Regions from separate parts of the Homo sapiens genome. Here region 2 is linked to region 1. A link means that fine-mapping ties the variant in region 1 to the expression of a gene that starts in the linked region. Tissue or cell type: whole blood. Region 1 holds a variant in brackets; the other region holds the start of a gene. All regions are shown on one strand. Distances are from middle to middle.

What was found. PIP is the estimated chance that this variant, and not a neighbour inherited with it, causes the effect.
Region 2: MAML2 starts here. The variant in region 1 is fine-mapped to the expression of MAML2 in whole blood (TOPMed, PIP 0.95).

What each region holds. Positions count from the first base shown.
Region 1 is chr11:96,258,682-96,266,883 of GRCh38, reverse strand. The region is part of intron 1 of MAML2 (mastermind like transcriptional coactivator 2); the gene reads left to right. Among named protein-coding and RNA genes, the nearest start is that of MIR1260B, 79 kb to the left of the region's middle. RefSeq lists enhancers at 8,039-8,088, 8,129-8,202. The variant G/T (reference allele first, on the strand shown) is at 3,489.
Region 2 is chr11:96,338,369-96,346,519 of GRCh38, reverse strand. It overlaps MAML2 (mastermind like transcriptional coactivator 2), which reads left to right and starts at 3,325. Exons shown (of 5, transcript NM_032427.4): 1 at 3,325-5,137. The coding sequence starts at 4,625. It overlaps MIR1260B (microRNA 1260b), which reads right to left and starts at 5,082; the gene lies at 4,994-5,082. RefSeq lists silencers at 3,142-3,331, 4,449-4,708, 6,961-7,255.

The DNA.
Region 1 (8,202 bases):
TGAATAATAATTCCATCACAGAAGGGGCTCATTATTAACCACATTTCCATGTGTGATATTCACCGAGGCATGTCCCTGGAAACATACCTAACCACATAAGAGTAAAAGCCTGTCATAGCACAGGAAGCCTAGAATAAGTACATCCTACCATTTAAGCACCTAGGTCTTAATATGTCAGTTCATAATTAGATTCTACCTTTGTGGTCAGTATTTGAAATTGAGATATAGTTAATCAGTTAGAGAGGTAGTCAATTTCACTTTGTCAGTGAAGCTCAGAATCGCACCAATATGTTGTTTTTCTTTTTTTTTTTTTGAGACGGAGTCTCACTCTGTTGCCCAGGGTGGAGTGCAGTGGTGCCATCTCGGCTCACTGCAAGCTCCGCCTCCTGGGTTCATGTCATTCTCCTGCCTCAGCCTCCCGAGTAGCTGGGACTACAGGTGCCCACCACCACGCCCAGCTAATTTTTTTGTATTTTTAGTAGAGATGGGGTTTTACCGTGTTAGCCAGGATGGTCTCAATCTCCTGACCTCGTGATCTGTCCACCTCGACCTCCCGAAGTGCTGGGATTACAGGTGTGAGCCACCACGCCTGGCCAATATGTTGTTTTTCAAAGACTGCCGTCCTCATACAGACCAGCTTGGTACTGACAGAGGAGGTGAAATGGGAAAAGTTCCTTTGTCCCCCTCGCAGGGTGTACGATGGGGAAGTGGCTCGTTTCTTCAGTGCCCTGCTGCTCAGGCCTCTAAGGGAGCATACATACGGGCAGGCTGTGGGGCTCCAACACCAGGGCAGTGTCTAGGGGTGAATGTTTACAGCTTTTGAAGCCCCAGTAGGCATGTGTTACAGGGTGCTCTTTTAGTGTAGCCATCCAAAGGCAGCTTGTGTTAACTAGCTTAATTACACCCTCTACCTTGTGGCAAAGACAGAGGGCTTTCTGTATCCTGGGGTGCTTGCTTTGGTGTAGTGGAAGAATCAGATCACACGTGGGCTTGGAGAATGAGTGCAAGGTTTTATTGAGTGGAAGAAGCTCTCAGCAGATGGGGGAGCCATAAGGGAGATGATTTTCCCCATAAGTTGGGCCGCTTGGGGGCCGAGCGCTCCTCCAACTGCCCCAGCCAAACTCTGTGTTGTTTTGCCCGTCAGTGGCCTGCTGGTGCCTGCTGGTGAGTTCCACTCAACGTCTAGCCGCTTGTGTGTTCCTCTGCCAATGTGCTCCTCTCCACGTCCAGCTGCTTCTGTCTCTGCCTTGCTAGGGTCTCGGGTTTTTATAGGCACAGGATGGGGGCCTGGGTGGTCTTGGGAAATGTAGCATTTGGGCAGGAAAACAAAAATGCCTGTCCTCACCTAGGTCCGTGGGGGTGGAGTCCTAACCTGGGACCATGCCTTCCTCTACCCAGCACTTCCCTTCCCCTCTTCCATATCATTTCTGCTGAGCTGTCTTTCACCAGTGGTTGTGTTCCTTCTCTTTTGAACAGGACTTTCTCTGTGCAGACTTCTGTACTGTTCAGTTACATCATAAGCCATATTCTAGTTATTCACTTGAAAGTTTACACAACCTGCAAGAGTAATTCATGGGGAAAATAACTCTGTTGTTTTTCCATCACATTTTCTGCCTCTGCCAACTCTCCCCTCGTCCTCCCCGCGCTAAAGCCAGCCACTTTTCTGTCCATTTTCACAGGCAGAAATGCTTTGCATCGTGCCTGCTTGTACTGGCAATTGCTTGGGCCTCTTCTGTAGCTTGTCCTCTAGCTGTCTCTACCACATTCCTAATGAAAGTCAGCTGACACTATGTATTTGTGTACAAAGAATAAATAACATGGTTTAGTTATGTAACAATTTGAAATGCCTTGATTTCTTTAGGTTAATGTTAACAGCCTCAGTATTGGTAATTCCTGACCGTCTGCTAACTTTTGAAAGCCAGAAGGTCTTGCTCTTCAAACTCTTCTCCTCACAGGATGTAGTGGGCTTATAGCTGAAGAAAGGCATATCTAGGGTATTAAATGTGTTCTTGCAAAACTAAATAAGTACCCTATGCCGAAATAAGATATGCTGTGTGGTAACTAGTTTTTAGAGTATTTGAAGCAATGATTTGTACTCCTTTCAACGTTTTCATTTCAGGAGCATTTTAAGAAGTGGTTTGGGGTCATGACTCCTACTTCAATACAGTAGTTAGTACAATTTGTAATGCTTAATTTGTGGACCCTCCGTTATTAGCTTAGAAGACATAACTTGAAACCAGTACGGTAGAGTGGATGAGGAGACATTCCAAGATGGTTAAGATAAAGCTAAGGAAAATGGAAATGCCTTGCCCAGCGTGACTAAGAGGGTCAGGAATAGAACCTGACTCCTAATAGAACACATTTTTGAGTGAGTGGCACAAAACAGGACATGTTAACAATCAGAACTCAAGTCCAGCCGTAAAACATATTTGTATACACTGTTGCATATTGTGTTCAAATGGGTTATTTTTGCCTCAATCTGTTCCAATGCACATTCCTGCCAGAGGTAGGTATTGGTTTGGAGATAATTTTTTCTCCAGCAGCATGCAAAAGTCAGGGTTTCCAGATACTAAACTGAATGGGGGTCTGGGCCTTATAAAAAACGAACACATGGATGGGTTCCATACTTTGTAACTAATTTGGCAGCAGCTGACATCTTAGTTTGTGAGGGGGCTTTACAAAAGTTACGGACCTGTAACCTCTGCATTGGGCTAGGCTCCCCCAGTTAGGTTACTTGGGGATGAATAGTTGCTGAGATAATTGTGGGTAAATGTAGAACAATAGCCCAAACAAGAGACACTCTGGCACTCTAGTCCATACTTGGCTTTTAGGCTCTAAAGAAGTGATCTGGGTCTTTTTTGAATTATAACTATAACCAACATTTATTTCAGAGTGATTTCTACATATTTCCTTAATTTTCCCTCACCAAATCCCCCTAAGGAGGTCTGTTAATACACTAATGCTATAGATCTTTTATAAGGGCACAGACAGGCCCAGGAAGATGGTGACATGCACAAGGCTACACAAATAATAAATAAGGATTGGGAAACATACATTTGGGTCTCTTGACTCCAATTTGGTTGCTCTTTTAATGATACCAACCACTTTGACCATTCAAAGGGGTCATTGTGGTCCCACCAGCCCCCCTCCATACCTGCTGAGCCCAAGTACAGACTCAAAAGGAATTTCCCTTGTGGCTAGAGGATGTACTGTATAAAAGATCAGGATCCCATTTCACCTTTCCTTTCTTTCAGAACTATCTTAGCTTTACCTTTGGATAAATGTATGTCATTAGTGGGAGATCATCTGCCTCTTAAATTCTTATCTTTCACAATGGACACCAGACTTCCTTTTAAGGTGCTATGTGTGACTCATCAGTAGTTTAAAATTTTGTAAGATACATGAACATTTTCTGATTGAGAAACACTTTAGAAATGCTGAACATATTATTGTGAAATAACAATGACTAATATTGTTGTTAAATTGTT[G/T]AATTGTAATAGCTTTAACCTTTTTTGATTCAGTCTGTTTATTCCAAGTTATCTTGCCTTTTAAATGGCTTTGAAACATTGGCAAACAATGCTGGTCTCTCTTACAGATCTCAGTCCTGCTTTTAACAATGACAGGCAGTGTATTCAAAACATACCTGAATTGGACATGACATTTTGGGGAATATTTTGACTAGTTTGTAATAAAAGAAAAGTTGAATAAATCAGAATTGATTAAAGAGGTGATAGTATACCAAATGCTATGGTGAGCAAATTACTCTTGAGAAATGCATTGTTTATATAGATATTACAATGTCATGCTGTTCTCAACCCAATCAACTATATAAACTGGAGTAGAAATTCCTGAACTTTTTTTTAACTCCCGGGGAAGCAGTTTACTATTAGCAATTAGTATAATGATTACTATCAAATCTTGCCAAAGAGAGATCAAGAAAAACATGGGTGCAAAGTAAACATGACTCCTTTGATTTTATTAATGGATGATAGGATTGAAAATAAGCCAGAAGGTGCAGAAAGCTGAGATTATAGTAAAGCAGGCAAATATGGCACTTGCCATGTTTATCTACAAGCTTGCCATTCTTTGGGCAGTAAATGAAACAGAGCATTAAAACAAGGATTTAAAAAATGGATTAAATTATCCCAGCACTTTGGAAGGCTGAGGTGGGCGGATCATGAGGTCAGGAGATCCAGACCATCCTGGCTAACATGGTAAAACCCCATCTCTACTACAAATACAAAAAACATTAGCCAGGCGTGGTGGCGGGTGCCTGTAGTCCCAGCTACTCGGGAGGCTGAGGCAGGAGAATGGCATCAACCTGGGAGGCGGAGGTTGCAGTGAGCTGAGATTGCGCCACTGCACTCCAGCCCGGGCAACAGAGCGAGACTCCATCTCAAAAAAGAAAAAAAAAAAGATTAAATTTTAAAAATAAGAACAAATGGTGACTGGAGGGAAAAACAAGAGGAAAGAAAACGAGCAGTAATCAAAATCTTGGGAGAATTATTTTCAGTTTGATTTTGTGAATTTTATTTATACAATAAATAATAATGCTAACTGAGGGTCAAATTAATCTATGAGAATGTTATAAATGACCTTAAATCAGCACATTTGGAGAAGTAAAAAACTGAATCTGTGACTGAACTCTGTCTTCATTTATCATAAAAACCGTACACAATTTTTAATCTTCCAATGTCTCAGTGACACCTATTTCCAGATTAGTGGTCCTCGAACTTTAGTACATGTCAGAATGTCCCAGAATGCTTGTGAAAAATACGGATTTCTGGGTTCCATCCTCAAATACTCAAGTTCAGTAGATGTTGGTTGGGACCCAGAAAGATGCAAGGACTTCAGGACATCTTTTAAAAACATTAATATGGAGAATAATGAGCCAGGAGGGAAATAACTCTTTGAGTCAGAGAATGCCACTGATTTTAGGAATTCTGACCGTATCAAATACAAATTTTAGAATTTAAATATTTGTTCATGGTGATATATTAGAAATCTAACATAACACATATTGGTGAAAAAATAATTATAAAATTGTCTGCAGTTAGGTAACTTGGTTGTTTATAATCAAACTGTTTAGACAATAACATTGAAATAGTTACTGAATTGAACACTTCCTTATTTTATAGACGAATAATATGGAGCTCAGGTAGTCAAAGTAATTTGCACAATATCATGTCACTAGCTAGGGACCAGGCAAGATATTTGCTCTTTCCATTCATTATGTTGTGTTCCTTTCAAAAGTCTCTATAAGTCTCCAATATTATCAGAAGGACTTGGGGTAAGCCAAGAACCCCATTAGACGATACCTTCGGCTCATGTAGGAAAATAAGGTTATAGGCTTGTATAAACATAAATATACTTAACAAAAGCAATTCTACGGTTATAGCTATAGAATACACCTTGTCTTTCCTCTCAATAAATGTCATGAACCACTGGATGGAGTGTCTTAGTTTGTTTTCTTTTGCTTATAACAAAACACCCAAAACTGGGTAATTTATAAAGAAAAGGAATTTATTTCTTACAGTTATGGAGGCTGAGAGGTCCAAGGTTGAGGGGCTGCATCTGTTGATAGCCTTCTTGGTGGTGGGGATTCTGTGGCACAGGGCATCACGTGGCGGAGGGGGCTGAGCGTGCTAATGTGCTAGCTCAGGTCTCTCTTCCTTTTATAAAGTCTCCAGTTCCCCTCCCATCATAACCCATTAATCCGTGAATGGATTAATCCATTTATGAGGACAGAGCCTTCATGATCCAATCACCTCTTAAAGTTACCACCTGTCAATACTGCCAGATTGGAGATTAAGTTCCAACATGCGTTTTGGAGGGGTCATTCAAACCATAGCATAGAGTAATGATGGTAAGTTGTTTCAGGCATAAAATTTGAAATAAATTATGAGGCTCCATGATATGCTATATTGGTTTTACCTTCAGAAGAATATTTAGTTTCACTCAGGTTTTTCAAAGCTACGCTGTCCCCCAAAAAACGAAACAAAACAAAAAAACAACCTTTTTAAGAGTTGATGGCTACTCATTTGATCTGCCTCCTCTGCTGAATCAATTAGGAATTTTTTTTTTTTTTGCCTGCAAATAACAGAAAACTGACTAACAGTGTAAGAAATAAAGTGATTACAAATAGGGATTTTTCCTCCCACACACACTACAATATTTCTGGATATAAGGTCATTATGGGTATTAGTTTAGTGACTCAAATAATATCACTGCTCAGGGTCAGTTTGTCTGTGATTCTCTATGCCTTTCTCTCATAGTCTTAAACTGCAGGTATCACATTGGCAGACTGGAGGGAGGAGTGAGGGCAGCCCTGGTGTTCCTCTTATCAGAAAAGCTGAAAGTGTCCCAAAAGCACACCCCTCTCCTATCAGATGTCCATCTTATTGGCCGGAACTATGCTGCACCTCCATTCCAAGAACAAGAGACACTGAAGAAAAAAATGTATTGCTTTAGCTTCTAAAAAGGAGACGGCCAAGGGATAAGACAGTTGAGAAGGGTGTGGCATGACAGAGTGTCTGCTGCTCTCTTGGTTTTAGAAGGAACTCCTGTTATTCCAGTGTCACCTGAGTACAGACTGGGTCTCATGGGGCCACTCCAGATTCAGACATTCTTCTTTTTTCTTCTGCTCTACCACCATCCTTCTAGAGTCTGCCAGTTTGCTTCCCCCCACCCCATCCCCCAACACCACACAGAGTGACTCCACTCCCACACACACAGGCATTCACACAGTCCAACCTTCATTTTTAGGAAGTCCTGGAACTGACTGGCCTTTAGGAAGGTGGCACAGGTGTTCCGAGGATTATAAAATGTTTTATTGAATAAGTTTTCTCTGTGGATGTCCAGGAACCTTTCCTCCCAGCCTGTTTGAAAGAATAATGATTAAATTAGAACAGGACATACTGATGTTTAAAAAAAAAAAAAAAATCACAAGTCAGTATCTTGAAAGTATATCCCAAGGCTTTTTTTAAGGTAACCTTTATACTGAACCATAAAAAGATTAAAGACACCTTCCTCTAGAATCAGGCCCTGTCATTCACATTGAGATTGTTCAGAAAAAGAAGAGTTGACACCTTTACTGAAAGGAGTCAAGGTCTTGCAAGCAGGAAACTGGTTTTATGACAATTCCCTGCCTTGCTAGGTAAGCTGGTCCACATCGAGATGACTCTCTCCTTGACTTCTGACTTACTTTGTGTTTGTTGGAGGAATCCTATGAGTCATATTTAGCCTTTCCAGCCTGATTGAGTTTGAAGGAGCCACTGGATTATTGCATACAATGGATTTTGCAAAGAGTTTTCTCCAGCATACCCACAGGAGAAAGGCAAGTCGGTTCATAAATGGAAATTCTAGACAAACAACTAAGCTAAAGACACCTCTCTGTATAAATGCTTCCAGATGGAGACAAGTTTTTCACTTCACTCTCCACAGTTTTCACTTTAAAGGGTTATTGAGATGGAAGCATTGGAGCGAAGCACATTAGAATCACTTGCCCCACCTTGCCTTCTGAGGAAGAATGACTTACGGTTGCAAGGGGAAAATGCTGGCTAAAAAATAAATCTTGGTCTGTTCCCCATAGTCTATCAACACATGCTTTTCAGAAGAAGAAAAAGAAAAAAAACATCTGGAAAGAATAGGACTGAGTTGGTAGAACATCTTGAAGGGGGCTGGCCTTCACTTAGAAAATTGAAAAGACATGCAGATAAGCCATTAGGAAGAAGAGTCTGTGGTTGTTAAGCAGAGTTACCTAAAGAAGGAACTTCAAGATACAAGTTTAAAGCAACACTCTGTAATTATTTGTATTATAGTATAAGGTTGTTAAGTTTGTCTTCACCCTTTGAAAGAGTTCTGAACAGAGTTAGTGTTTTCGTAAAAAATCTCAGGGCCTACAAAAAATGCCATTTGGCCTCCACAATAAGTTGCTCCCACCCAGAAAGTCCTCTCCCTTCTACAGCTTCCTGTATAAAAGGCTGGGATACCAACATCTGCCTGAAGCAAAAACACATGTATTTTAACCAAATAAATAAAAAGGAACAAAAGTCTGAGTACATCATGCTGCTCATAGTCTTACTGGCTGACTCCCATTGGCTCTCTCACTGTTGTTATAATTTCGTTTATGCCCTAGGCAGATGGGCCTCTCTGCTCATAGGTGATTTAGAATCTGCTGATAGTGGCTGGAATGAAGCATGG
Region 2 (8,151 bases), 80 kb before region 1:
TGGCCATATTGCCCAACGTAATTTATAGATTCAATGCCATCCCCATCAAGCTACCAACGACTTTCTTCACAGAATTGGAAAAAACTACTTTAAAGTTCATGTGGAACCAAAAAAGAGCCCGCATTGCCAAGTCAATCCTAAGCCAAAAGAACAAAGCTGGAGGCATCATGCTACCTGACTTCAAACTATACTACAAGGCTACAGTAACCAAAACAGCATGGTACTGGTACCAAAGCAGAGATATAGACCAATGGAACTGAACAGAGCCCTCAGAAATAATGCCGCATATCTACAACTATCTGATCTTTGACAAACCTGAGAAAAACAAGCAATGGGGAAAGGATTCCCTATTTAATAAATGGTGCCAGGAAAACTGGCTAGCCATATGTAGAAAGCTGAAACTGGATCCCTTCCTTACACCTTATACAAAAATTAATTCAAGATGGATTAAAGACTTATGTGTTAGACCTAAAACCATAAAAACCCTAGAAGAAAACCTAGGCAATAACATTCAAGACATAGGTGTGGGCAAGGACTTCATGTCTAAAACACCAAAAGCAATGGCAACAAAAGCCAAAATTGACAAATGGGATCTAATTAAACTAAAGAGCTTCTGCACAGCAAAAGAAACTACCATCACAGTGAACAGGCAACCTACAGAATGGGAGAAAATTTTTGCAACCTACCCATCTGACAAAGGGCTAATATCCAGAATCTAAATGAACTCAAACAAATTTACAAGAAAAAAACAAATAACCCCATAAAAAGTGGGCAAAGGATATGAACAGACACTTCTCGAAAGAAGACATTTATGCAGCCAAAAAGCACATGAAAAAATGCTCATCGTCATTGGCCATCAGAGAAACGCAAATCAAAACCACTATGAGATACCATCTCACACCAGTTAGAATGGCAATCATTAAAAAGTCAGGAAACAACAGGTGCTGGAGAGGATGTGGAGAAATAGGAACACTTTTACACTGTTGGTGGGACTGTAAACTAGTTTAACCATTGTGGAAGTCAGTGTGGCGATTCCTCAGGGATCTAGAACTAGAAATACCATTTGACCCAGCCATCCCATTACTGGGTATATACCCAAAGGACTATAAATTATGCTGCTATAGAGACACATGCACTGGTACGTTTATTGCGGCACTATTCACAATAGTAAAGACTTGGAACCAACCCAAATGTCCAACAATGATAGACTGGATTAAGAAAATGTGGCACATATACACCATGGAATACTATGCAGCCATAAAAATTGATGAGTTCATGTCCTTTGTAGGGACATGGATGAAGCTGGAAACCATCATTCTCAGCAAACTATCACAAGGACGAAGAAACAAACACCGCATGTTCTCACTCATAGGTGGGAATTGAACAATGAGATCACATGGACACAGGAAGGGGAACATCACACTCTGGGGACTGTTGTGGGGTGGGGTGAGGGGGGAGAGATAGCATTAGGAGATATGCCTAATGCTAAATAACGAGTTCATGGGTGCAGCACACCAGCATGGCACATGTATACATATGTAACAAACCTGCACGTTGTGAACATGTACCCTAAAACTTAAAGTATAATAATAATAAAATTTAAAAAAAGAAATAAAAGAAATTATAAAACAAACAAAAAATCTGAGTGTATTTGTCCCCATTTCCAAGCTAACAGGATTGGTGAAAATAAAATGGACTAAAGTAGGCTATCCTATAGGGAACTAAATTGCAAATAAATCCAGTATTGAGATGTTTGCCTTGATTTTGCCTATTTCTATCCATAGCTCAGTTTGAAACGACCATATTCGTGAAATGCCAGAGTTTGTTTAGATTACTGAAGGTATATTATTTGAGACCTCAAATCCAAATGACTTCCAAATTAGGATACCCAGAATATTTTTGGTCCTGACTGTTGCAGTATTATGCTCACCTTAATTTAATCTTCATAATTGAAAATAAGCAGAATCCACAATAAGTTTTTTTTTTTTTTTTGGAGACAGAGACTCACCCTGTTGCCCAGGTTGGAGCGCAGTGGCGTGATCTTAGCTCACTGCGACCTCCGCCTCCTGGGTTCCAGCAATTATCCTGTCTCAGCCTCCCGAGTAGCTGGGATTACAGGCGTATGACACCATGCTCAGCTAATTTTTGTAGTTTTAGCAGAGACGGGGTTTCACCATATTGGCCAGGCTGGTCTTGAACTCTTGAACTCAGGTAATACACCTGCCTTGGCCTCCCAAAGTGCTGGGATTACAGGCGTGAGCCACTGTGCCTGGCCAGGATTGGATATTTTAAAGGTTGGATCACTTGAAAATGGGGGAACAATGATCTGTGTGAGATCTATTTGGTTTCTATTATTAAACTTCTTGAAACTCAGAGCCAGGTGCAGTAGTGGTGAGTACCTGTAGTTCCAGCTACTCAGGAGGCTCAAGTGGGAGGATCACTTGAGCCCAGGAGTTCAACTCCAGCCTGGGCAACATAACAAGACTCCATTAAAAGAAAAAAAAAAAAAAAACTTTTTGAAACTCAGCTGCTACACATTGACTTTCCTCATTGTATATGTGCACCAGGTAGCTAAGGATACTTCAGGTCTTATATTTGGTTTTTCATAGGCAATCATGCATTCCCAAAAAAAAAGCGTTTTTTTCTAGAACTGGTATCGATAATTGTATCATTCTCATAAAATATTTTATTTATCCCAACTGATTTGCCTGTGATCACCCAGACTCACTTATCCAGAGACACACAAATGGGCAGGCAGGTAGACAAACGCTACACCTGCCTGCCCTTTAGGAGCTAACAATGTGATTACCTCTCCTCTCCACGCGCAACCCCTTCCGCCCTCAACACACACATTCATATCTTCCTTATTCTATTAATGAACATTTCCTCGGTGCTCACACAGCTCGTGCTAGGTTGCTCAGTGGTGTCATTTACAATATACTGAAAAATGAAAATGATATCCTCAGCGGGGCGTAATGTAGGGCTGAAAGGGAAAACACATTCCTGGCCCGGAATTTCTTAAACATTTAGAGCTGGTGAAATGGTTGTGTAGAGGTTGGGGAATTTCCCCAGCCTTCCCCGCTTAACCGAGTCTGATGCTGAGCTGAGCCAGGGCAGCTGAGATGCGCAGGGCTTGGGATTTACCTCTTCAGCCACTGGGAGGCCCTCTGCGTTCCCCTTTCCCCGGTGCCTGGCTGCGATTACTCACTCGCGCAGTGGCACCAGCCTTCCACCAGGGAGCCTCGAACGAGCTCTCCCGCCCTCTCCCCGCCCCCCCACCCCCATCTGCAGCTTGCTGGCTCTCTCTTTCTCCTTCTCTGTCTCACTCTCTCTCTTTCTCTCCCTCTCCTATCGGAGCACAATGAAAGCCTGTGTATCGCCGTGACTCCGGGCGCGAGCCAGTGTCAGCAAAGCGGCTAACAACAGACGAGAAAGAGAAAGGAAAATACAAGCTACTTTTTTTTTCCATCTATAAAGCGGAGCAAATACAGGAGATAGAACCAGATTGCTTATTGCGAGTCCAGACCCTCAGATCCACTGGCCGGGGATGGAATGTACAAAAGTGGACAGAAAAGTGGCTGGACATGACTCGGTGCAATTTGCTGGAAGTTTGTAAGTTTGACCATCGTTTGTAAATTACTCTCGGAAGAGTTTGTCTCTCTTGATACTGTATTAGAATAGAGCCGGGGGTGAGGAATAGAAACGTAAGCGGGAAAGAAAAAAATGTGTTGAAGGATCTCTCTCAGTGGCTAGCGACTTAAGATTGCTTTTCATTTAAGGCTAGGAAACCTTAGAGGGAGTGAGGATTTTACCGGTGATTGGATTAGCTGAAGAAAAAAGCATGGTCCAAAAGTCCAATTACTGACATTGTTAACAGTTGAAAAGCTGTCTCCCTCTTTTGGGAGAAGACAACATCCTACAGTACCCCAAAGAGGAGAAAACACCGGAGCGAAAGGAAAGGGAGGAAAAATTAAAAGCCAAAAGACAGTCTCCCTTGATTTTTGCACATTTTGAACAGTGACTTAAACATCTTCTGAAACAGCACTGTTTTGTTTTGTTTTGGTTTTTTATTTAACCTGAGGAAAAGTCAAGGCTGCTGGTTACATAGACATGGTAGAAATGTGTTTCTCTGCAGAAACATCCCCATAAAGAATTGTCGGAAACAACTAGGTGAGGGGGAGTCCTCTCTATTAATACCTCTCTCAATACCTTTTGCTGTGTGTTTCTGTCTCTTGCTGGACAATCCCTGAATTCTTGATCTAACCCCCAGATCGTGTGTTTACAAAGTACCTAGTGGCTCTTGTCAGCTTGGTGGAGGAAAAAAAATCCACCAACTCTGTCCAACTTCTCCAGAGCTGTCAAATGCAATTAGAGTAAGTTAATCAGGGTTTGTTTCCAACTTATCCTCCCCCCAGTTGGTTTCTATTCTTTCTCCCCACCCTCTTTTTACTAACTCCCCTCCCCCACAACTTCTCCACGGCTCCCCCACAACCTCTGAAGACCTCTATTCATGTGGCCCTGAACACTGAGCTCACATTGTCAAAAACAGACTTGCCTGCAATAGCCAGCAGTAGCCTCTTTCCACCTCACCATCCCAGAGGCAGCAATCATTGTGTCCGGTAAGATGGGGGACACAGCGCCCCCGCAGGCCCCCGCAGGAGGGCTAGGGGGGGCCTCTGGGGCGGGGCTCCTTGGAGGGGGCTCAGTCACCCCGAGAGTGCACAGTGCTATCGTGGAGCGCCTCCGGGCTCGGATCGCTGTCTGCCGCCAACACCACCTGAGCTGTGAAGGACGATATGAACGAGGTAGGGCCGAGAGCTCAGACCGGGAAAGAGAAAGCACCTTGCAGCTCCTGAGCCTTGTACAGCATGGCCAGGGGGCAAGGAAAGCTGGCAAACACACCAAGGCCACCGCCACTGCTGCCACCACTACAGCCCCTCCACCGCCCCCTGCTGCCCCTCCTGCGGCCTCCCAAGCAGCAGCAACAGCAGCCCCACCGCCCCCACCAGACTATCACCATCACCACCAGCAGCACCTGCTGAACAGTAGCAATAATGGTGGCAGTGGTGGGATAAACGGAGAGCAGCAGCCGCCCGCTTCAACCCCAGGGGACCAGAGGAACTCAGCCCTGATTGCGGTAAGCACCTGGCTTTCTCATGGTTCTGGCTGTGGTCCTGTGACCTTTTGTGAGGGTAGAGTTTGCTTTGGCCTAAGGTAGAGTGGATGGCAATGAAAAAGGCCAAGATGTCACCTGACTACCTTAAAGGCCATTGGGTGTGTTCGGGTGGTTTCATGCGCCTACTCATCATGTTCTGTTGGTGCTCACTCCTGGGTTTTCCTTCGCTTATAGGATATTCCTTAACTGATAAGAAGCCTGAGTTTTCCAGAGGCTCTCTGGGGTCCACATCTTATAAAAGAAGAGGCTACCAGCTGGCAAGATCTGAGCCACTGAGGAAGGTTCTATCTCATGGATCCTCCAGCTTTGGCCAGCCAGCTCTGATTAGGCCCCCAAGCCATTTTTCAGCCCCAAAGCATTTATCAGCCCAGCTGGCCTTTATTAAAGCCTTTTTCTCCTTGCCCCATTTCCCCTCTCCCTTTTGAAGTGACCCCCTTCTTCTTCGCTTAAGAGAACATAAATGGTAAGCTGTAACAAATAGCAAATTCCCCGAATGTCCCCTCAGTCAAAAACAAAATTTGGGGAAAATATCCCAAAGAGAGACTAGGGAGGCACTGTTTCTTAAGAGGCCTACTCTCTGATTCCCTCTAGACTCTCTCACTCCTGAGCCACATCTCGATTATTTTCCCAAGCACTCCAGTCCAATCCAGTAATGCTCCCTTAGAGCATTCGTTAAGCAGACAGGCACGAAGCAGCTATTTACACAGATCATCATCCTAGGAAATACCTTGTCTTCAGCCACTCCTGGTGATAGGATATCAAACCCAAAAGTTCTGATTAAGTTTCTGGCTGGAAGTTCTTCCCCAGAGGCACAGACACACACCATCCCAGAGGAGTATCCCTTGGATCATTGATTCTCAGTGCCAGTCCTGGTCAGGTGACTGCCTGCTGTTTGCAGGCTTCCCCCCAAAGCTGCTGGACCAGTGGCCTCTGGTGGAAGGTAGAACCCTGCCCTGTGGCCCTGCAGGCTTCCTCCCTTTTGGAGCTCCATGGGACTTCTGGATTCTATGTCTGCTCCAGTTTACCCAGGTCAGCCCTAGCAAAAGCGACAGGAAATGGCCATGCAAGCCCCAAAGTACTCAAAAAGCCCAAAGGAGATGGTGCTATTGTGTCTAACTGCTCCTCCAAAGGAGCTTGATATTGAGCTCTCGGGAGAGGACATCCTCTGGCCAGACGCTCAGGATGGCTCTTTCTGGCTTCCCTTAATCCCTGGCCTGGGTCCATGGTGACGAAGACCCTGGGAATCTCTGGGGAGTAGGATGGTGCTTTTCTCCCCAGCCATAAGCACATTTACTTGGGCTACCTAGGAATGGGACTCCTTGAGGCCAGCTCCAGATGAAAAATAACTACCAACAGTTAAACTGCACAGGGTTTACAGTTTTACCCTTGAATAGCAGCACTAGCTTGTGGGGTTGTATTAGAGCTTCGAAGCCTAATATCCTTTTTCTACCACCTGCTCTATTCCCGCTTCTCCCTGGAATTCCCTAGGAAAGCAGTGGGAGGTTGTTTTGTGAAAAAAGAGATGTTAGGGTAAAGGAGGGGGGTAAAGAATCGCTCAAATGGAGAGAAGAATGAGGTTTGTATGTATGTGTGTGTCACCAGCATCTGTAGCCAAAAGTATCTAAATGCCTTGATTGTCCCCAGTAAATTTATAATCTGTCTGCAAGTCTCCCAATAATGCGGCTTTGTGTGCTTCACAGTCTCCTGGTAAGTGTTTCTGGGGATGGAACCGCAAGTGAGGCACCCGGCCCAACCCTGAGTGGAGAAGACTGATCTCTGCCCGGGGTGTCAAGGCCGGAGCGGGGCCGTGAAGAGCCACAGTGGGCTTCCCTTGTGGCCTTCACAGCCCAGCCTCTGAAGGAAAGGTGGCATGTTTGCCTCTGGCCTTGTTCTTTGAGCTTCTGCTTTTGTCCAACTTGGCAGTAAGCTGAGACAGCCTTTTTTTTCTAGGGTGTTTCATGATGGGAAATGAAACCAACTTTAGTGGTCGTGGTAACTTTACAGTAGCAATACCCATGCTGGGAGGGAAGTGAGGGAGCGGTGTCTGGCCCTTCCCGACTGAAAGCTTACTGCTGCAGAAGCCATAGCTGGCTGCTGTGCTACCTCTGGCCTAAGAGGGAATCTTTCTCTCTTCTAACCACCAGCCATCTCCTGAGACATTCCCTTAGAGGAGCTCCCTCTCCAGGTGTAGTGATGATGCAGAGAGGCACAGTTTAAGTTAGGAGGGTAAGGGATAGTATATTTCTAGTAGTTGCTTTTCACTGAGAATATGTGGCATTGCACGGGTTGTTGGAAATTCCCTCTCCATTTTAGCTGCTAAATTTGGCCCGTTGTTACTCAGCACGGTACTCAGAGATGGTGATGCAAGTGCTGTATTAACCTGATAACATTGTGTCCAAAGGGAGGCCTGGGCATTTTGAAGTGATTCACCAAGCCCATTACATTGGCAGGTCTCACTTTACTCGGGCTCCTCTTATTTTTCAGATATGCTATTAATTTTAAAAGGGCCTTTGTTCAGGGTGAGTGTCAGAATTTTTTCTTAATTTTATTGCTACTGTGTCCATAACCAGATTTATGTGACTTAGGTGTGTTGAATGTATAACTTTAATAGTTAATTCGTATGCCATAAGTGGCCATAAATGTCCTTTGGAGAAAGGGAGAGAATATTGATCATCTAAAATCAAAGATGTGCTGTGTCCTCAGATGAAAGCTTTGTATCCTGCATACCTTCTAGTACAATGCCTTGAAGACAGTGGGTAATATTTGTTGAATGAAGGTGAAAGGACAACTTCTGTTTGGTGGGATAATGTTGACTTTCATGGGTATTATACAGCAAGGAATATATAATGTCTGAATCCTTTCAATAGCCTTAAGTTTCAAGAACAATGCAAGAATAACCTCCAAGCCAGTTTTAATTCTGTCCACATTGACAGCCTAATTCTACAGCCCTTACTCAGCCAGTTTCTTCATTTAGC